Linked DNA regions of Homo sapiens. The protein of the gene in region 3 interacts with the protein of the main gene of each other region in a pairwise test. Each region holds a gene or a part of one and is shown on either strand. Other genes may lie near its edges.

Region 1 (2,750 bases), on a different chromosome or scaffold from region 3:
CGCCACTACTTCTGACTTGCAAGATTTTCAATCATTGAGAACAATGCTCTTACTGCCCTTGAAAAGAAGGGCATTTCCAACTAAACTTTTGGTTGGTGGGAAGGAAGCAGGTTACTTTTTTGTTGTGAGACATTTGTCTTGTCTTACACTATGGAAGGTCCAGGCACAGAATTCTACACACCCAAGAACTATATGAACTGGAAGGAGCCTCAGGCACTTGAAACTCACCTCGCTGTCCCTTTTCTTTGCCACTTATTTATTTATTTATTTTACAAATGAAATTTAAAAAACCCAAGGCCAAAGTGGGAAATGACTTGCTCAAGGTCATCCATATTCCTAACCCTCCTTTTACTGGGGCATAGGGCAATATTTTCCAATATGCCTGAAAAGCTTAGGTCTCTAATCACAGATAACTTACAGCTTTTCACAAGCAAGAGTTTTGGCCAAATTATGCCAGTTAAGGAATGTAAATTTTATAAATGATGAAATACTGCAACCAATTAGTGCAAACAAACATTTATTGTGAAATATTCATCCTACCCTTTATTAGGTATTACATCATCAAAGCACTTTGTGGCAATGAAAATAGCTTTTTTTACCCCTCTAATTCACCCAATATTCCATTAAAGCTGCAAAAAATGTGCAATCTGCTTGAAAAATAGGTTGCTCTTATTTACTCATTTGTGAAAAGTCAAAAATTAAAAAAGAAAATGATACTAGCATACAGGGCCTCTAGAGCCAATTCACCTTTCCATTTCCCAACTACTCCCCAAAATAATTAACAAAGATAATTTGTTTTAAATGCCTTTTTATAAAACCAATGCACCTTTCCCCATATTATAATCATACAAATTTTAAAAAGCCGTTATTTACTTTCTTGGAAAAAAGGTGGCCAGCCGTTGTTTTTTGATTGGGAGCATGTGTATTTCCTGGGAGTTCACTTTCTTTAACTTTATGCTCCGGTTTTTGATGGGTTTCCTAAGGGGCTCTGCATTTCCCATGGACTCTTCCCCTTGGCTGTTGATGTCATAGCCCTGAAGCACGGAGTCTTCTCTTTTGAAGGAGAAGTTTTTGGTGGACACCCCTGAGAGGCCTTTGATCTTGCCACAGAATATGGTAGGCACAGCATCTTCGACAGAGACAATGACCTTGGCCGCCTGGGACTCGCCCACCATCTCAATGTTATTTTCAGCCTTGACTTCGCCGCTGGGGTGGTTGGGCTGGCTGAGCATCTCGGTAGCAGCATCACTGCTGCTGATGTGACTATCCATCATGGCTGGGGCCTCATGGGACGTGGCAGGGGCAAAAGAAATTTCCATGCCACTGGGAAGTTTCTCCATCACTGTGTGACCTGAGCTGTCCACTGATGCACCACTGTCATACAGTGTCTCAGGGGGAGGCTCGGATTTCCGGTGGGCTGCCACTGACAGGTCTAGGGCTGCATCTTCCTGGAAGATTGGGGGACTGACTTCACCAGCCTTGAGCCAGGGCACTGACTTCATGGAGAGATCCAGGGCCTCGTTCTCACTTCCCATCTTAATGACCGTGTGGCGGCTGAGCTGGAAGTACTCCTTAGGCTGGAGGATGTCAAAGGGCTTCAGTTCATCTTTTTCCAGAGGGGTCTGGGTGCCTTTAAAGGGGTGCAGGCCGAAGGAAGATGGTGGCTTGGGGAAACTGGAGCTGAACTTGGATTCAGAACTCTGAGGCATCGGGATGGGGATGGGAATAGGGACTGGCACAGGCAAGGGGACGATTACAGGATACGGCACCAAGAGGGTGGCTGGTGGGACCAGGGGGGACAAGGGGGAGCTAAAAGGCTGTGGGGGCACAGGGGCATAGCCAGGAGGAGGCTGACAGGGTGGGGGCCCGAGAGTGCCCTGGGAGGGAAACAAATTCTGGAGCACAGCTTCAAATGGCAAAGTGGGCTCCTGCGGCTGGCTGGGGATCCTCAGGTCCAGGAGCTGGGGCTGGGCCTCGGGGTCCTCCGCTCCCTGGAAGAGGTTGTTGTGGATGGTACTGGAGGAGCATGGGGCCTCCTGCGGCAGGACCAGAGGGGAGTTGAGGTGCTGAAAGACGTGCTGCTCCAGCACCACGGGCAGTTGCACGGGGCCCTGGGTGGTCATGACGTAGGTGGCATTGCCATTCGGATTGAGCTCTGGTGCGGAGCTTCCCTCCACCTGCATGTGAATGGGCATCACCACTGGGCTCTCCCCGAGGCACAGGGGCTGCAACACAGTGGCCGCCACCTTCAGAGCCATGCCACTCTGAGACTCGGCAGGGGGGTTCAGAATGGATGGGGCTGGCACGGTCACCAGGGCCTTCTTTACCAGGTCAGTGGAGTTGATGTTCCAGGCCTCGGTGGTGATCAGCTGAGCCATGCCATTCTCCAGTCTGTTATTAGCCAAGGCAGGAGGGGAGTCAGTCATGTCCATGGAGAGGTTCTGGGACTGCAGGTCGTCCATCACTCAGCTCTGATGCCACTTGGCCTGCAACACAGAACATACAATATGAATCTTCCTTAAAAGACTATTTATAATTGCCTTAAGAGCTCTCTCACATCTTTAGAAAGTTTCCACGTTTTAGTTAACCAGGGAGCATAACCCATCTCTCTATGTATATGTTCAGGTTATAGATATCTCCTAATATATACAAACACAACCACATGATCCTGTGTGCGTGGAGAACCCCAATTTAACAGATGATTAAGCTATAAATGCAGATGATGTAATCAGTAAATAGCCAAGTGAGGT
Region 2 (2,255 bases), on a different chromosome or scaffold from region 3:
TATAGGTATAAATTAAGATGTCATTTCCCTAGAGAGGCTAAGAAATAAATACATTCAACAAATATTTGATGAATTAAAGGAATGAGATGAAGATATCTGGAGAAAACGACTCATTCGATCCACCATTCATTCTGCACACATTGTGTCAGGCAAGATGCTCAGTATCAGACACAGAATATAGGAAAGTACAAGTAACCAGCTGGGTGTGGTCACTCATGCCTATAATCCCAGCACTTTGGAAGGCCAAGGCTGGGGAGGACTGCTTGAGGCCAGGAGTTTGAGACCAGTCTGGACAACACAGCAAGACCCTCATTCTCTACAAAAAATATTTTTAAAAAAGTTTTTAAAAGAAAGTACAAGAAGGTACACATACCCTTTCACAAGTCACAGTGATATCTTACTAAAATGCCTGGAGCCACAAGAAGCCTGTTTTCCCTTCAAATGAAAAGTAGGTTAAAACTGGATTCACCAAATCTCACAGAAGAAAAAAGTACACACACTGAACTTTTTTAGTTTTTTATTTTGATTCCTATGGCTGGACAAGGTATCTACATTCTAGAACATCTTCTTAATCCCTAAACAAGTGGAAATCTACTACTTATATATAAAAAGACAAGTAGAAAAGGTCATGATTGTCTAACAGGGAACATGAATCCCCAAATAAATTATCTTACAAAAATATCATACTTGCTTTTCTACTTTTTTACTATACTGGTAAAAATGAAATGAAAAAAATAATTCACATTAAAATAAAATCTGTAGGGTGGCATAGAAGACAATTATTTTTACATATTAAAGTCCTTCAAATAAATATTTTACACACAAATTTAAGTAAGTTTTTAAAAAAAATAAGTATTTACGCTATATTTTTTTGCTCTGCTAAAAAGAGACCACTTATTAAACTGACATTAAACTGGACTGCAGCTCATTCTCTGCAAAGAGTAAAATGCATGTCACAGGCAGATTGGATACACACGTGCATATTACATACATATGAAATGGCTAACACTGCTGTGCATACTACTGCCATAACTAGTTTTACCCTGTAAAAATACTGTAGCCTATACTGTATCAAATTGCAATGAAAGAACAAAAGGTACTACTTGCCTATTTTAGACACTTGGTCAAGCATTTAAAAAAATACAAAAATTGGTCCACTGCAGTGGCTCACACCTGTAATCCTAGCACTTTGGAAGGCTGAGGTGGGTGGAACACCTGAGGTCAGGAGTTCAAGACCAGCCTGGCCAACATGGTGAAACCCTGTCTCTACTAAAAATACAAAAATTAGCCAGGTGTGGTGGCCGACGCCTGTAATCCCAGCTACTCAGGAGCCTGAGGCAGGAGGATCGCTTGAACGTGGGAGGCAGAGGTTGCAGTGAACTGAGATCACACCACTGCACTCCAGCCTGAGTGACAAGAGTGAGACTCCGTCTCAACAAAAAAAGAAAAAGTTATAATGTTTTGGGGACTTAAAGATTACTGAAGAGGGGATAAAAGTCAACACTGCTTACAAATACCTGAACATGGAGAGCACAGTCAACACATTCATGTGGACAGCACATGAACGGATGTATTAATACATTACACAGCTTCTTCTATCTGACCTATTCCTCTTGTTCTAAAGAGTTACATGGACTTGGATCCTTTAAGATGATTTTAAAAATAATATTACATTAAGTTTTCCTGGTCTAATAACCAACTTTGAGAAGTACAGTGGAAGGGTATAGAACTTCCTATATCTTCTATACTTTTAATGCCAATTTGATTTTTATTGTGATGTGATATTTAACAGTATGCTAAAAATAAAATTGACTGAATTGTATGATTTTGTCCACAACATTGAAGTCTCTTTTTGCTAAAATATTACAAAATGAATCCAGTAAACACTTTCCAATGGCCTAAGTTAGAGATGAATTCAACTTTTTTTTTAAAGCAATTACAACTACGCTGGGCTGAGGACAGCTACGTTAGACCCTGAAAACCAAAGCCAAGCACCCAAACATCTAAAACACTAACACTTTCCATCCAGGATAGAAAAATGAGCATCCAAAGTAAAGAGAACCACAAGACTGATCAAGTAACCAGTCAAAAACCACTTCTCTATTATTTGAACTTATAGTTACTCGAAGCTTGAAGTGTCCACCTTCATTATTACTGGTGGTTCCTAGAGTCACGGCTTCAATGTCAAACGTGACAGTGGACCCAGAAGTAACTGCGGGTAACTGATTTGTCATTTCTTTTCCATTGACAAAAAC
Region 3 (2,187 bases):
GTATCTACCTTAAACACAGCCTAGGCACTTTATTAATAAAGATCTGCCACTAATAGGACTAATAGGATACTTTTTCTCATGACTTTTCCAGAGAGTAGCCTTGTCAGTTTTTAATTCTAGTAGTTGTATGATCTGTTGCCTTTTTTTCCACCCCCCAGTTTGAACTTACCAGTGTCACACAATTTGCTGCTCATCAAGAAAACAAGAGACTGGTTGGTTTTGTCATCCGTGTTCCTGAATCCACTGGAGAAGAATCTCTGAGTACATACATTTTTGAAAGCAACTCAGAAGGCGAAAAGGTCTCTTTTTCATGTGAAGATCCCATAATATCCCAGTCCAAACAAGTCCATTTTAAAAGAGTTTTCTGGCATTACTTCCTTGGATATTTAGTTGATTATTCTGCATGTCTCCATCCAGGAGTTCAGATAATACCTCCTAAGAAGGCCTCACTGAAAGAAAACTCGATTTAAATTTCTCTGTGGAAAATACCTATCAACCAGAATAGGGTGAATGAGGAAGAAATTTCATGGCAAGACATATTATTTAGTCGGGATATAAGGAAATGTTGAAAGCAGTTCCCCTCAAATTTGTTCTTTAAAAAAAATTAAGGCAAAAGCTACAATAGAGAATAATTTAGTCTCAGAGAGAAAACCAAGGAAGATATTAGAAAAGTTACACACAAGCTGTTGGTTTAGTATGAAAAACTTTTGACTCTATCTGCTACTTAGAATTTATCACAATTAACCAATCCTTTCAGTAAATTATCTGTTTGCCACTGTGTATATGGACATATCGTGGCTAAATACATTTAAGAGAGAGAAGAAAAATTCCTATTAAGAACTTTTAACACTGGAATTACCTGAGTTTCACTTACCTGGAATATTTTTTGTGTGGCATAAATTGGCAACAGAGGTCAGGACAGTTGGACGCAAATGCCCCGGGCCCTATGTGATGAGTCTCCTGCAGCCAGGTCCTGTGTTCCCAAGTGGGAACAGTGAGAACAGTGACCTCACTGTACTCCCAAATCACATTTGTTCTAAAATTTTATCCTTCTCTACTTTTGCCAATCACTACTTTTCTTGTCTTTTGCAGATATGTTATGCTATTAATTTGGGAAAAGAAATTATTGAGGTTCAGAAGGTAAGATGCATTCTAGCGCTGGTTTAGTAGCTACTCAAAACACATCTGTGTACACATACCAAGAGTCTTTTCAAAAAGAAAAGTGATGTTCACTGGAAAGTGTGGCCAAGTTTGGGATTTCCTTTTAAAAGTATTCTAACCACCAGAGGTTTTTGATCAGCTAGTTCCATGTTCACTGTTAACACATGAGGACTTCTTATCACTGCTGGAGCTCCTGCTTATCTGTTTTCTTGCTTGCATACTAGTTGGCTAGATTTCCTCTTTCAGATTAAGATGATAGATAAGTACCCACCGTGTGCTGCTCTAAGGCCTTGCTCCTCAGAGTATGATCACATGCCCCACAGCATTGACAGACGTCACCTGGGAGCTTTTAAGAAATGAGGATTCTGAGACCTCCCTGTCTTTCAGCAGCTTTTAATCTTTTGTTCATTCAGCAAATTTTTGAGAGCCTAGTTTGTGTAATTGAACAAGACAGATATAGTCCCTGCCCCCAGGGGGCTTCTAGTTCAGCAATGTACAGAACTTTCTGCAATAATGGAAATGATTTATATCTGCACAATTTAATATGCAGATTGAATATGGCAAGTGTGACTGAGGAACTGGATTTTTAAATTTAACTCAAATTTACATAGTAACATGTAGCCAGTGGCTACCATATTAGTGCAGTTCAGTCTTGGAGAGGTCAGAAAGACCAAGGACTAAGGCCACATACATGAAATAGTGGCAAGCACTGTAAGCTAGTATTTAATGGTATTGGTCAAAAGTTGGCAAACTTTTTCTATAAAGGGTCTTTATGTTTTTGGCTATCTCCCTTGCAACAGATTCAACTCTGCTATCATAAGACAAAAGCAGGCCAGGCATGGTGGCTTATGCCTGTAATCCCAGCACTTTGGGAGGCAGAGGCAGGAGGATCACCTGAGGTCAGGAGTTCAAGACCAGCCTGGCCAACATGGTGAAACCCCATCTCTACTAAAAATACAAAAATTAGCCGGGTGTGGTGGTGCACACCTGTAGTCCCAGCTACTCGGGAGACTGAGGCACAAGAAT
Region 4 (3,500 bases), on a different chromosome or scaffold from region 3:
AGAAAACCAAACACCGCAAGTTCTCACTTATAAGTAGGAGCTGAACGATGAGAACACATGGACACAAGCGGGGAAACAACACACACTGGGGCCTGGTCGGGGACGGAGAGCATCAGGAAGATTAGCTAATGGATGCTGGGCTTGATACCAAGGTGAAGGGTTGATCTGTGCAGCAAAACACTGTGGCACACATTTACCTAGTTAACAAACCTGCAGATCCTATACTCATACCCTGGAACTTAAAATAAAAGTTGAAGGGGCTGGGCACGGCGGCTCACCCTTATAATCCAAGCACTTTGGGAGGGTGAGGAGGACAGATGGCTTGAGGTCAGGAGTTCAAGACCTGCCTGGCCAACATGGTGAAATCCCGTCTCTACTAAAAATACAAACATTAGCTTGGTGTGGTGGTGGATGCCTGTAATCCCAGCTACTCGGGAGGCTGAGGCAGGAGAATCGCTTGAACCACTGCACTGCAGCCTGGCTGACAGAGTGACACTCTATCTCAAAAAAAAAAAAAAAAAGTTGAAGGAAAAATAATAAATAAATGAAACCCCAGGAAATTCAGTTTGGTTCCTGAGCATGGGCTCTTTCTGGAACAATATGGCCTCCTAACCAGGCTGGAAATCGAGGAGTGAGAAGAAAGGGGAAGGAAACAACCAGAAGAATGGAAAGCCCGACTGGAGCCCAGTAGAGACTCCGGTTGATGCACTTCGGGCCACACACACGTCCCTGTAACTGGCCCCACACTGAAGACCAGACTCAGGTCTTCATTTTTTAGAAGGAGGGACCAGGAGCTCAGGGGTGGTCCCCATCCCGGCCTGGGGCACCTCCCCCGAAATACGTGCTCTCCTCTGGCAGGTGATGGTGAACGGGAGCCTCTTCGTGCAGTACTTCCACCGCGTGCCCTTCCACCGTGTGGACACCATCTCCGTCAATGGCTCTGTGCAGCTGTCCTACATCAGCTTCCAGGTCAGACTGTCCACCTGGCACCGGTCCCAGGGGCTGGGATGCAGGGCCCAGCGTAGCTGTGCTTAGGCCCAGCTGGGGGGACCCAAGCCAATCTCCTACCCAGGTCACTCTGGGGACAACCTCTGCTTCCCTGTCCCAGTACCTGCCCGCCCCTTCTCCTCTGTCACTCTGCCCCTCCTTCTGTGTCACTGTCTCTGTCTGGAACACCTGCCTTGGTCTCCCAGACTCCTCAGCTGCCCCTTTCTCTTCATCCGTCAATTTCCATCCTGGTAAGGAGGGCATATTGTTCTAGAAAGAGCCCAGGCTCAAGAACCAAACTGAATCCAGTTCAAATTCCCAGCTCTGCCATTCGTCATCTGTGGGATCTTAGACAAGCAACTTTGCCTCTCTCAGCCTCAGTTTTGTCATCTGTAGAATGAGCATGGTCATTGCCTGCCCCCCATGGGTGGTTGTGTGATTCATTGAGGAGACAGATATCAGAGGTCACACAATGGCGCCCCTGGGCCCACACCAGGGTCTGTGTGACCTCTGTGTTTTAAAAACTTTGAATGCGTTGCCAACATCTAAAAGGTCAGGAGACCCAGGTATGGTGGTGGAGGTCTGCAATCCTGGTTACTCAAGAGGCTGAGGCAGGAGAATCGCTTGAGCCCAGGAATTAGAGTTCTGCCTGAGCAACATAGCAAGACCCCATCTCTAAAATCTTTTTGTTTGAATAATAAAATAAAATAAATAAAACTAAAGAAGGTCAGGAGATACCAACACCACGTGAAAAATGGGAAGATTAGGGTATGCTGGGCCCACATTCCCACAGGGCACCGGCAGCTGGATGGGAGCTGCTGTTACCCTTTTGGCATTCAAGGGAGCTCCCTGAGATGAGCGAAGTGCACAGTAGGCCCTCAGCAAATCTGGGCTCCTCACCCTTTGGTCCTCATCTCTCATTCCCTCCTTCCCTGACTCTCTCCCCTGCGGGTGGAAGGGGAGGGAAGAGCTGGAGGGAGACTGTCCCCCTGCGCTGCTCACCGAAGCCTGGCCCTTTCCGCTCCCGCCTCCGTGTGGCCCTAACCCCCTTGCTGCATCCCCCTGCCTGCCTGTTCTCTGCCTCCTGCCCCTGCATCTGCCTTTCGGCTTCTCCTTGGCTCTATTAATGCTTCTCCTCACCGGCCGGTGCCTTTTGTTTTAACAGAATCCCCGCGCAGTCCCCGTTCAGCCTGCCTTCTCCACGGTGCCGTTCTCCCAGCCTGTCTGTTTCCCACCCAGGCCCAGGGGGCGCAGACAAAAAGTGAGTTCAACACAGAGGCCCTGGGTGGCTGAGCAGACAGCAGGAAGGACCGAGGGTTTGAGAGGCTGGCCCCAGCCAGCAGGCCACCAGGGCCTATGGGCCACATCTTGCCCACTCAAGAGTTCCCTGTCTCTGTCTGCTGGGCACCCAGAGCCGGGGACCTGGGTGTTGCCCTGGATTCTTCACTACCCTTTCTTTATGTCTCTCCAAGGCACCAACATATCTCCCTCCCAAAGCCACCGATGTGGCCCAGGCCTCTGGGATTCCTCACCATGACTACAGGGGTCCAGTTCCCCACCCCCCACACCCAACCGCTGCCACAGTGACCTTCTTATAAGCAAATCTGATCACACTCTCTCCCTGCTTAAAAATCTTAAAAGTCCCCAGCCCTTTAAACAAAGCCCAAATTCCCCAGCAGGGCATACGAATTCCTCCCCAGTCTGGCCCCAGTCCACCTCCTTGCCTCACCCCCAACCCACGAAGCTCATGCAACCTCCACGGCTCACTCAAGGCCCTCTCGGGCCACCATGCTTTTGCATATGCTGTCCCTGGTCCCGGAAGCACCCTCTGCCAGCCTGCCCTCAGCACACGCCTAATCGCCCTTCCATGCTCTGCCAAAGTGTCGCTCCTCTGGGAGTCCTCCCTGCCCAGAATATTGTTGGATGCTCCCCCCATGCCCCCACGGAGTCTGTACATATCTGTGCCATGCCAGTTCACAGCACCCCATTGTAACTGTTTGCGTGTCTGTCCCTGTCACTCCACCCCCATCTCCCTATGCCCATGAGGCCCCAGAGGGCTGGGACTGTGGGTCGTTCATTTGCACAGTGCCTGGCACTCACTTAGGGACTCGAAGAATGGATGAATGTGGAATGTGGTTTTCGCAGCCAGGGAGAATGGGATACCAGCCAGGGCAAGAACAGTCTACTGGGTGGGGCAGGATCCACGACAAGGAGGTGGGCAGCCCTTCCTCTGGCCACTCAAGCAGTGGGGACTGGGAGGAGGGGCGCTTTGTCTATGTAGCCTTTTTATGGCCCATGATGGTACAGACAGTGCACCTGCCTCCTGCCACGCTGACTTCAGGACTGGTGGAGCCCCAGGGAACATTCGCAGGGCAGCCAAACTTTGGCCCTGGCCCTGGCGCTGGCCCTGGCCCTAGGGATGACAGAAAGTGTGCTGGATACAGTCAGACAGAATTGGCTGCCATTTTGGATTTGATCCCTTCCACCCGGGCAAGCTTGGGCAAGTTGCTTAA
Region 5 (3,500 bases), on a different chromosome or scaffold from region 3:
CCATCCACTAGGTGGTGAATTTTCAGAAGCTCCTTTGTCAACATCTGTACCGTCTGAAACAACGTCTGATAATTTACAGATAACCACCCAGCCTTCTGATGGTCTAGAGGAAAAACTTGATTCTGATGACCCTTCTGTGAAGGAACTGGATGTTAAAGACCTTGAGGGGGTTGAAGTCAAAGACTTAGATGATGAAGATCTTGAAAACTTAAATTTAGATACAGAGGATGGCAAGGTAGTTGAATTGGATACTTTAGATAATTTGGAAACTAATGATCCCAACCTGGATGACCTCTTAAGGTCAGGAGAGTTTGATATCATTGCATATACAGATCCAGAACTTGACATGGGAGATAAGAAAAGCATGTTTAATGAGGAACTAGACCTTCCAATTGATGATAAGTTAGATAATCAGTGTGTATCTGTTGAACCAAAAAAAAAGGAACAAGAAAACAAAACTCTGGTTCTCTCTGATAAACATTCACCACAGAAAAAATCCACTGTTACCAATGAGGTAAAAACGGAAGTACTGTCTCCAAATTCTAAGGTGGAATCCAAATGTGAAACTGAAAAAAATGATGAGAATAAAGATAATGTTGACACTCCTTGCTCACAGGCTTCTGCTCACTCAGACCTAAATGATGGAGAAAAGACTTCTTTGCATCCTTGTGATCCAGATCTATTTGAGAAAAGAACCAATCGAGAAACTGCTGGCCCCAGTGCAAATGTCATTCAGGCATCCACTCAACTACCTGCTCAAGATGTAATAAACTCTTGTGGCATAACTGGATCAACTCCAGTTCTCTCAAGTTTACTTGCTAATGAGAAATCTGATAATTCAGACATTAGGCCATCGGGGTCTCCACCACCACCAACTCTGCCGGCCTCCCCATCCAATCATGTGTCAAGTTTGCCTCCTTTCATAGCACCGCCTGGCCGTGTTTTGGATAATGCCATGAATTCTAATGTGACAGTAGTCTCTAGGGTAAACCATGTTTTTTCTCAGGGTGTGCAGGTAAACCCAGGGCTCATTCCAGGTCAATCAACAGTTAACCACAGTCTGGGGACAGGAAAACCTGCAACTCAAACTGGGCCTCAAACAAGTCAGTCTGGTACCAGTAGCATGTCTGGACCCCAACAGCTAATGATTCCTCAAACATTAGCACAGCAGAATAGAGAGAGGCCCCTTCTTCTAGAAGAACAGCCTCTACTTCTACAGGATCTTTTGGATCAAGAAAGGCAAGAACAGCAGCAGCAAAGACAGATGCAAGCCATGATTCGTCAGCGATCAGAACCGTTCTTCCCTAATATTGGTAGGAGTTTTCTTGAGTCTCAACGTATATTACTATGGGTATTAGAGTGGCATGCGATATGCTTATAAGATTTTATTATTAGAATTACAGTTGGAATAAAGCACTGAGTTTTTCTATTCCTCCTTGAGGAGTTTGTTTGTTTTGTTTTGAGACGGAGTCTCACTGTGTCACCCAAGATGGAGTGCAGTGGCGCGATCTCGGCTCACAGCAACCTCCACCTCCTGGGTTCAAGTGATTCTCCTGCCTCAGCCTCCCGAGTAGCTGGGACTACAGACACGTGCCACCATGCCTGGCCAATTTTTGTATTTTTAGTAGAGGTGCGGGGTTTCACCATGTTGGCCAGGCTGGTCTCAAACTCCTGACCTCAGGTGATCCGCCTGCTTTGGCCTCCCAAAGTGCTGGGATTACAGGCGTGAGCCACCCTGCTTGGCCCTCCTTGAGCTTTAGAATGAAAGCAGTTGGCTGGGCACAGTGGCTCACGGCTGTAATCCTAGCACTTTGGGAGACCGAGGCAGACAGATTGCCTCAGCTCAGGAGTTCCAGACCAACCTGGGCAACACAGGACATGGATGAAGCTGGAAACCATCATTCTCAGCAAACTAATGCAGGAACAGAAAACCATACACTGCATGTTCTCACTCATAAGTGGGAGTTGAACAGTGAGAACACATGGACACAGGGAGGGGAACATCACACACTGGAACCTGTCGGGGGTGGGGGGCTAGGGGACGGATAGCATTAGGAGAAATACCTAATGTAGATGACGGGTTGATGGGTGCAGCAAACCACCATGACATATGTATACCTATGTAACCAGCATATTCTGCACAAGTATCCCAGAATTTAAAGTATAATAATTAAAAAAAAATAACAAAAAATTAGCTGGGCATAGCAGCGTGCGCCTGTAGTCCCAGTTATTCGGGAGACAGAGGCAGGAGAATGGTGTGAACCCAGGAGGCGGAAGTTGCAGTGAGGCGAGATCGCACCATTGCACTCCAGCCTGGGGGACAGAGTGAGACTCTGTCTCAAAAAAAAAAAAATGAAAACAACGAAGAGTTTTAGATTCTTTCCAGGTAAATTAAGAGATTCAAAACTGAGTTACAAACTTCCCTCAATTCTATTATTTATGGAATTGTTTAATAGAAACTAATTGTCTTCTTAGTTCCTACATTCCAACCATTGTTGCCATATGTTTTCAGTCATGGAAGGATGAATTTAAGAAAATTATGATGGAAATAAAGCTTCTTACTGTCCTTTTGTGTATGACAAATGCTTGGCGATTTTTTGCTATATAAACCTCTTTAACTTGTTTCTAATGGTTTACTGATTCTAAAAACAACAAAAGCAATGCAGTCAAAATGCCTCAGTGCCTCTAAGAATAAGAATTAGCAATCAAAGGGCACGTGTCTAAGCAGTGTGCCTTATTCTAAATAATAAAATTGACATTCCATTTTATATATCCCCAATTTCATCATTTTGCTCCCTTTTTTTCATTTAGATGCAAATAGGTTTTTTCGTAGTAGCTTCTTATTGAGAGGTTATACCCTTAAGAAATTGGTGCATTTTTCTTTTAAGAGTGATAACTAATTTAGTAGAATTCCTTAGTATTGCAAATTCTTATTTGTGATGTTATATTTACTAAAGAAGCCATTCTGATTAGCATTGCAAAAGTTTGGATGAAAGGAAATTAATTGCATTGCTTTAGATTATTGCTTATAATCTCCCTTAAACTTGACTTTTTGTTTTAATTCCTGCAGGACTAAGGTATTAAAGCATGATTCAGTTAAGGACTACTGAGATGCGATTAAACCCAGGATAAGGTTGCCATCTCAGAAATCTGTAATGATTATTAAATAATAAAATTTAAGAGCTTGTAATATTTGAATTACTTCTTAGTGTACGTTGAACTAATTACTATGAAATAAGTAACTTTATATTTCTTTTCTAGATTTTGATGCAATTACAGATCCTATAATGAAAGCCAAAATGGTGGCCCTTAAAGGTATAAATAAAGTGATGGCACAAAACAATCTGGGCATGCCACCAATGGTGATGAGCAGGTAGGTGGAGTGGCTGCTTGTTTCTACTGGGCATCTAGACATTCATGAAATCATTACTAGTTTTTAGAAAAAACATACAGAAAATGGAAAGCCCTTGTCTAGGAATGAACAACACTATTTAAGTTGT
Region 6 (3,029 bases), on a different chromosome or scaffold from region 3:
ATCCAGTCTTGAGTGACCTTTATCCCTTGAAAAACTCCAATTATATCAATTTTTTCCTTTATTATATGTTGGACTTTAAGCAGAAATGGTTAAAGCATTTATCTCCATGATCTCATTCAGTTATTCCTTTAAAAAACATATCTTAGGGTAACAACATGAGATTTCCTCCCAACCTTTCAATCCTAAAACTTTTGTCAGGTCCTCAGATAAGGAAGTGCCTCAACTGACAGGCCTTTTAACTCTCCCTGCCTCATAATTAATAAATGAGGTTGTTGTCTTTTTGCTGTCCCAGATTAACCTATTCAAGAAATAAGGTAAAGAACAGAGTGAGTCTGATGAATTAAAAAATGAATGCTTTAAGAGTAAGATAATAAATATTTTGATGACATAACTTGAATATGGGTTGTATCAGATCATGTTGTTAATTTTGTGATAATGGCAATCTGGTTGTAAATTTAGGAAAATATCCTTATTTTGGGGGGCACATTCTAATGTATTTATGGAAGAAATGTCACAATTCCTCCAATTCTCTTTAAATTCACTTCAGAATTTACTTTAAAATACTAGTTTTGCTTTGATGGACATATAAATTATTTCCCTATCTTTTGCTGTTGCAGGAAGGGGAAAAGCAAATTTGACAATAGGTTAGCAATTGTCCAATCTAGATGAGTCTATTGGTGTTCAATCTATAATTTTCTCTACTCTCCAGTATGTTTGAAATTTTTTTTTTTTCCAAGACAGAGTTTCACTCTTGTTACCCAGGCGGGAGTGCAATGGCACAATCTCAGCTCACTGCAACCTCCACCTCCTGGTTCAGGAGATTCTCCTGCCTCAGCCTCCTGAGTAGCTGGAATTACAGGTGTCCACCACCACGCCTGGCTAATTTTTTAGTAGAGATGGGGTTGGTTTCACCATGTTGGCCAGGCTGGTCTCAAACTCCTGACCTCAGGTGATCCACCCACCTTGGCCTCCCAAAGTGCTGGGATTGCAGGCATGAGCCACTGCGCGTGGCTGAAATTTTTAATAACTCCCCCCACTCCCCGACATCCCAAATTAAGATTAAAGACTTTGTTTAAACACCAGAATCAGCTAACTTTAGGAAAGAATCTTAAATTGAATCAAGAATTTAAAGATAAGGGTTTCTTGGGAATGCACTTCAATACCATATTAAAAATAATGCAGAATCTCCACCCTTACAAGTCCCCAAAAAGGAAAACCAAATATGTAAACCGGGCAGGGTTGGAGGGATGGGAGTTCCTTCCAGTTCTGTAATCTCACCAGCAGTGAAAATGGAGATTTTTACTTCACCAATGTAATCTTGTGTTTATATATTTACATAAAAAACTAGAAGGCAAAGTTTAAGGCCTTGAATTTTACATGTTTTTGTGGAGTCTTTTCCTGAGACCCCTTTGTCCCTATAGAGATAACATCCCCATTCTGTTACTGAAATGAAAGCAGGAGAAAACTAAATGACTTGACAGTGTTCTCAGAGCCAGTGCAACTGGAATTGAAATCTGTCTTTAGCCTAGATTGATGAGTTTCAAAAAGTGCTTCTAGAGCCCTGGAAGCTATTACTGCAAGAAGCCACAAGCATTCCACTGACTTAGAATTAGCAGTGGCAGAAATGCTACTTTTTATCATAATGCTTCCTTCTTGCTTTCCTACTTAAAACAAGCTGAGTTACTAAGTGGTAACCATAGTTCATTAAAGGCATGGAGAAACTTCAGGATATCGTTTTAAAAGACAAAACAACTTTCTAGTCAGTGACAGGTGAGGTAGGTGTAGATTCCTTGGTGTCAAAAGGAATTATGAATGACAGCAGTGAACATGAATTATGAATGACAGGGTAAACAAGATCAAACCCTTTACAGATTACACCTTCCTGTAGCAGTGAAAAATTCAGAATCTTATTTAAAAATAACATGCATGCTATGACCTTCCCACTATGCAGTTATCACAAATAATTATCTTTTATTTCACAGCAGCAGGAAGGGGAAAGCATGACATTCGACCCTAGACTGGATCACGAAGGAATCTGTTGTATAGAATGTAGGCGGAGCTACACCCACTGCCAGAAGATCTGTGAACCCCTGGGGGGCTATTACCCATGGCCTTATAATTATCAAGGCTGCCGTTCGGCCTGCAGAGTCATCATGCCATGTAGCTGGTGGGTGGCCCGTATCTTGGGCATGGTGTGAAATCACTTCATATATCATGTGCTGTAAAATAAGAACTAGCTGAAGAGACAACCAAAGAAGCATTAAGGCAGGTTGATGCTGATAGGACCACAAAATATTTTTACACTCAACCTGAGCGGTTATTCTTGACACTCTTAACAGAATTTTTTCAATTGTTTTCCAGAACTTTAGTATATGCAAATGTACTGAAAGGGTAGTTCAAGTCTAAAATGCCATAACCCCTTTATTATTTGTTATTTTTTATTTGCATTGCTTTGCCATAAGTCTTCCCTTGCTTGTATCTTCCAAAGCTATTTTGAAATAAACATGAAAATTTACAGTTTGCCAAAAATCTCAATTGTACACTTGAGCTCCTTTTAATTAAGTCATGATGAAAATAAGTCATTGTTATTTGTACAGAATTCCTCAACTGTTCTTAATCTTTTTTGTCCCCAGAATTCCCAGATAAAAACACACAGAAAAAGGAAAGGATATATAATGGAATCTACCTAAAAGTGAACATTTTTAGCCTCAATCTGGAAGCTCATGGGGAATTATTTGAGTGCACTGGCATGTGACCTGTGTTAAGAGTCACCTCCAGGGAAACAGCACTAGGATAAAGAAAAATGCAGTCGAAGATAAATCAGACTTGTGGGGAGGAAGGACTTTATTGACATTCTGAAAAGCAGGTCTTCACACCTTTCTCAATCTGTTTTCAGTAAGTGGTCACTGGGCATGAAGAAGCATAATGATTTTTACCTTTGTAGTACAAATCAGGCTGCGGCTGTAGTCCAATTACCAATAAGTTACTCTCCTAGTTACAGGGCTGACAGTGTTGCTTGGCAGATACAG
Region 7 (3,500 bases), on a different chromosome or scaffold from region 3:
TGAGCCACTGCACCTGGCCTACAGTTTTTATTTTTTTATAGAGACAGGGTCTTGCTATGTTGCCCAGGCTGGTCTCAAACTCCTAAGCTCAAACAATCCTCCTGTCTTCTGTGTCCCAAAGTGCTGGAATTACTGCACCTGGCATTTGCAAACTTTTTAATCAGGCTGTGGTTGGCAGTTTGCCAAGACGATTCCTTGTAGATCTGATTTTGGCAGCAAACAACATAGAAGTCGTACAGGAAATGCTAACAATTACATGTGGTGATTTTGAGAACAGCTACCAAATTCTTCACTTTTGTATCTCAAGCGAATGTTCAAATATTTTTAAAAATTATTTTTAAGGTATTGACTTTGCCACTCGTAAAATAGCCAAGTTGCTGAAGCCACAGAAAGTGATTGAGCAGAATGGGGATTCTTTTACCATCCACACGAACAGCAGCCTAAGGAACTACTTTGTGAAATTTAAAGTTGGAGAAGAATTTGATGAAGATAACAGAGGCCTGGACAACAGAAAATGCAAGGTAAAATGTAAAGAAATGCCAGGTGCGGTGGATTACGCTTGTAATCCTAACACTTTGGGAGGCCAACGCAGGCGGACCACCTGAGGTCAGTAGTTTGAGACCAGCCTGGGCAACACGGCAAAACCCTGTCTCTACAGAAAAAAATTCAAAAAGTAGGGGGGCGTGCTGGCAGGAGCCTGTAATCCCAGCTACTTAGGAGGCTGAGGCAGGAGAATCACTTGAACCCGGGAGGTGGAGGTTGGTTGCAGTAAGCCAAGATCGTGCCACTGCACTCCAGCCTGGGTGACAGAGTGGGACTCCATCTCAAAAAAAAAAAAAAGCAGTAAGTAGGCTGTTGATTTTGCAAGGGTAACTTGGCATTCTACTTCGTAACACTTGAGGATCCTGCCAGGACAAGCTAACATTTTCTCCTCTCTTCATGCAGAGTTTGGTTATCTGGGACAATGACAGGCTCACCTGTATCCAGAAGGGAGAAAAGAAGAACAGAGGCTGGACCCATTGGATCGAAGGAGACAAACTCCACCTGGTATCCACCACATTTTGTTCTTAATGAGATGATACAGTATTAAAGGAAACATCAGGCCAAGCGTGGTGGCTCACACCTGTAATCCCAGCATTTTAGGAGGCCGAGGTGGGTGTATCACTTGAGGTCAGGAGACTAGCCTGGCCAACATGGTGAAACCCCATCTCTACTATTTTTTTTTTTTTTTTGAGATGGAGTATCGCTGTGTCACCAGGCTGGAGTGCAGTGGCGCGATCTCGGCTCACTGCAACCTCCACCTCCTGGGTCCAAGCGATTCTCCTGCCTCAGCCTCCCGAGTAGCTGGGACTACAGGCACGCACCACCACACCCAGCTAATTTTTGTATTTTTAGTGGAGACGGGGTTTCACCATGTTGGCCAGGATGGTCTCGATCTCTTGACCTCATGATCCACCCGCCTCGGCCTCCCAAAGTGCTGGGATTACAGGCATGAGCCACCACCACACCTGGCCCATCTCTACTGAAAATACAAAAATTAGCCGGGCATAGTGGCGCATGCCTATACTCACTCTCATCTTATATTAAATGAAACAGCCGAATATTCCGACAGAGGCAGGAAGATAACATGCAAATACTCATGGAACAATTCTTACCTATTATATGTAATAGCTACTTTATGTATACATAGATATGCATAGATAGATATAGTAGCTCACATCTTTGGAGTGATTATTTTGGGCCCAATTACTGTGCTCAATCCTTTGAGTGCATTATCTCATCTAATCTTCACAACCCTGTGAAAAGGACGCCATTTTTCCCATTCACAAATAAATTGGGATTTTGAAATTCCCCAAGGCTGCTGTCAGAAGCATCAGAATCCAGTTTAAAAGGGTTTATTCAGACTGGGCGAGGTGGCTCACGCCTGTAATCCCAGCACTTTGGGAGGCTGACGTGGGCGGATCACGAGGTCAGGAGATCAAGATCATCCTGGCCAACATGGTGAAACCCCGTCTCTACTAAAAATACAAAAATTAGCTGGGCATGGTGGCACATGTCTGTAATCCCAGCTACTTGGGAGGCTGAGGCAGGAGAATTGCTAGAACCAGTTAGTCGGAGGTTGCAGTGAGCCAAGATCGCACCACTGCCCTACGGCCTGGTGACAGAGGCCGTTTCAAAAAAAAATAAAACAAAATAAGGGTTTATTCAGGCATGAAGATGAGAATGGCCACCCAGGAAACACAGACTCCAAAGAAATGGGGTCAGTACACCCAAGCTGAAAAGTTAATGTCTTATTTTTTTTTTTTTTTTGAGATGGAGTCTCTCCCTCTGTCACCCAGTGTCACCCACGCTGGAGTGCAGTGGTGTGATCTCAGCTCACTGCAACCTCTGCCTCCTGGGTTCAAGCGATCCTCCCACCTCAGCCTCCCGAGTAGCTGGGACTACAGGCATGCACCACCACACCCAGCTAGTTTTTGTATTTTTAGCAGAAACGGGATTTTACCATATTGGCCAGGCTGGTCTCGAACTCCTGACCTCAAGTGATCAGCCCACCTGGGCCTCCCAAAGTGTTGGGATTACAGGCGTGGCCGCTTGTAATAAAAATTTAATTTCTTGGAATGTAATTCTTGGAGTTTTTCTTTTCCTTTCTTTTTCTTTTTCTTCTTTTACTTTTAAGCTGTTGGACTTGAGGTGTTTTTCTTTAATGGCTTTATTGAGGTATACTTTATGTACCAAAAAATGCACCTGTTTTAAGTGTACAGTTTGATAATTTCTAGTAAATGTATACAGGTGTACAACCATTCCCATTATCCAGTTTCAGACAAGTCAATCACTCCAAAACATTCCCTAGAGGCCATGTGCTGACAACTATTATTTTACAGCCTGTTTTGTTTTGTTTTGTTTTTGAGATGGAGTCTTGCTCTGTTGCCCAGGCTGGAGTGCAGTGGCATGATCTCAGCTCGCTGCAAACTCTGCCTTCTGGGTTCAAGCAATTCTCCTGTCTCAGCCTCCCAAGTAGCTGAGACTACAGGTGCATGCCACGACACCTGGGTAATTTTTGTATTTTGAGTAGAGACAGGGTTTCACCATATTGGCCAGGCTGGTCTCAAACCCCTGACCTCAGGTGATCCACCCGCCTCTGCCTCCCAAAGTTCTGGGATTACAGGCGTGAGCCACTGTGCCTGGCCTGTTTTTGTTTGTGTTTTTGAGACAGAGTCTCCCTCTGTCATCCAGGCTTGAGTGCAGTGGCGCAATCTCGGCCCCCTGCAACCTCCACCTCCTGGGTTCAAGGGATTCTCCTGCCTCAGCCTCCCAAGTAGCTGGGATTACAGGCACCCGCCACCATGCCCAGCTAATTTTTTTTTTTTTTTTTTGAGACGGAGTTTCGCTCTTGTTGCCCAGGCTAGAGTACAATGGTGCGATCTCGGCTCACCACAACCTCCACCTCCCGGGTTCAACGATTTTCCTGCCTCAGCCTTCCCAAGTAGCTGGAATTACAG

Evidence for each region.
Region 1: the proteins of APPL2 (region 3) and RAI2 interact in a two-hybrid assay, tested with the Homo sapiens proteins (one large-scale study listed by BioGRID and IntAct).
Region 2: the proteins of APPL2 (region 3) and CRLF3 interact in a two-hybrid assay, tested with the Homo sapiens proteins (one large-scale study listed by BioGRID and IntAct).
Region 4: the proteins of APPL2 (region 3) and LGALS9C interact in a two-hybrid assay, tested with the Homo sapiens proteins (one large-scale study listed by BioGRID).
Region 5: the proteins of APPL2 (region 3) and KMT2C interact in a two-hybrid assay, tested with the Homo sapiens proteins (one large-scale study listed by BioGRID and IntAct).
Region 6: the proteins of APPL2 (region 3) and CNMD interact in a two-hybrid assay, tested with the Homo sapiens proteins (one large-scale study listed by BioGRID and IntAct).
Region 7: the proteins of APPL2 (region 3) and RBP7 interact in a two-hybrid assay, tested with the Homo sapiens proteins (one large-scale study listed by BioGRID and IntAct).

What each region holds. Positions count from the first base shown.
Region 1 is NC_000023.11:17,799,549-17,802,298, forward strand, and holds the end of RAI2 (retinoic acid-induced protein 2), read right to left. Parts: intron 2,487-2,750; 5' UTR 2,463-2,486; coding exon 870-2,462; 3' UTR 501-869; downstream 1-500.
Region 2 is NC_000017.11:30,782,184-30,784,438, forward strand, and holds the end of CRLF3 (cytokine receptor-like factor 3), read right to left. Parts: coding exon 2,004-2,255; 3' UTR 501-2,003; downstream 1-500. UniProt on the Homo sapiens protein: May play a role in the negative regulation of cell cycle progression.
Region 3 is NC_000012.12:105,174,988-105,177,174, reverse strand, and holds part of APPL2 (DCC-interacting protein 13-beta), read left to right. Parts: intron 1-158; coding exon 159-299; intron 300-1,092; coding exon 1,093-1,140; intron 1,141-2,187. UniProt on the Homo sapiens protein: Multifunctional adapter protein that binds to various membrane receptors, nuclear factors and signaling proteins to regulate many processes, such as cell proliferation, immune response, endosomal trafficking and cell metabolism.
Region 4 is NC_000017.11:18,486,789-18,490,288, forward strand, and holds part of LGALS9C (galectin-9C), read left to right. Parts: intron 1-111; exon of another isoform or gene 112-128; coding exon of another isoform or gene 129-152; intron 153-858; coding exon 859-969; intron 970-2,152; coding exon 2,153-2,248; intron 2,249-3,500. UniProt on the Homo sapiens protein: Binds galactosides.
Region 5 is NC_000007.14:152,174,004-152,177,503, reverse strand, and holds part of KMT2C (histone-lysine N-methyltransferase 2C), read left to right. Parts: coding exon 1-1,313; intron 1,314-3,261; coding exon 3,262-3,373; intron 3,374-3,500. UniProt on the Homo sapiens protein: Histone methyltransferase that catalyzes methyl group transfer from S-adenosyl-L-methionine to the epsilon-amino group of 'Lys-4' of histone H3 (H3K4).
Region 6 is NC_000013.11:52,702,764-52,705,792, reverse strand, and holds the end of CNMD (leukocyte cell-derived chemotaxin 1 isoform 1 precursor), read left to right. Parts: intron 1-1,982; coding exon 1,983-2,198; 3' UTR 2,199-2,529; downstream 2,530-3,029. UniProt on the Homo sapiens protein: Bifunctional growth regulator that stimulates the growth of cultured chondrocytes in the presence of basic fibroblast growth factor (FGF) but inhibits the growth of cultured vascular endothelial cells.
Region 7 is NC_000001.11:10,007,228-10,010,727, forward strand, and holds part of RBP7 (retinoid-binding protein 7), read left to right. Parts: intron 1-342; coding exon 343-521; intron 522-945; coding exon 946-1,047; intron 1,048-3,500. UniProt on the Homo sapiens protein: Intracellular transport of retinol.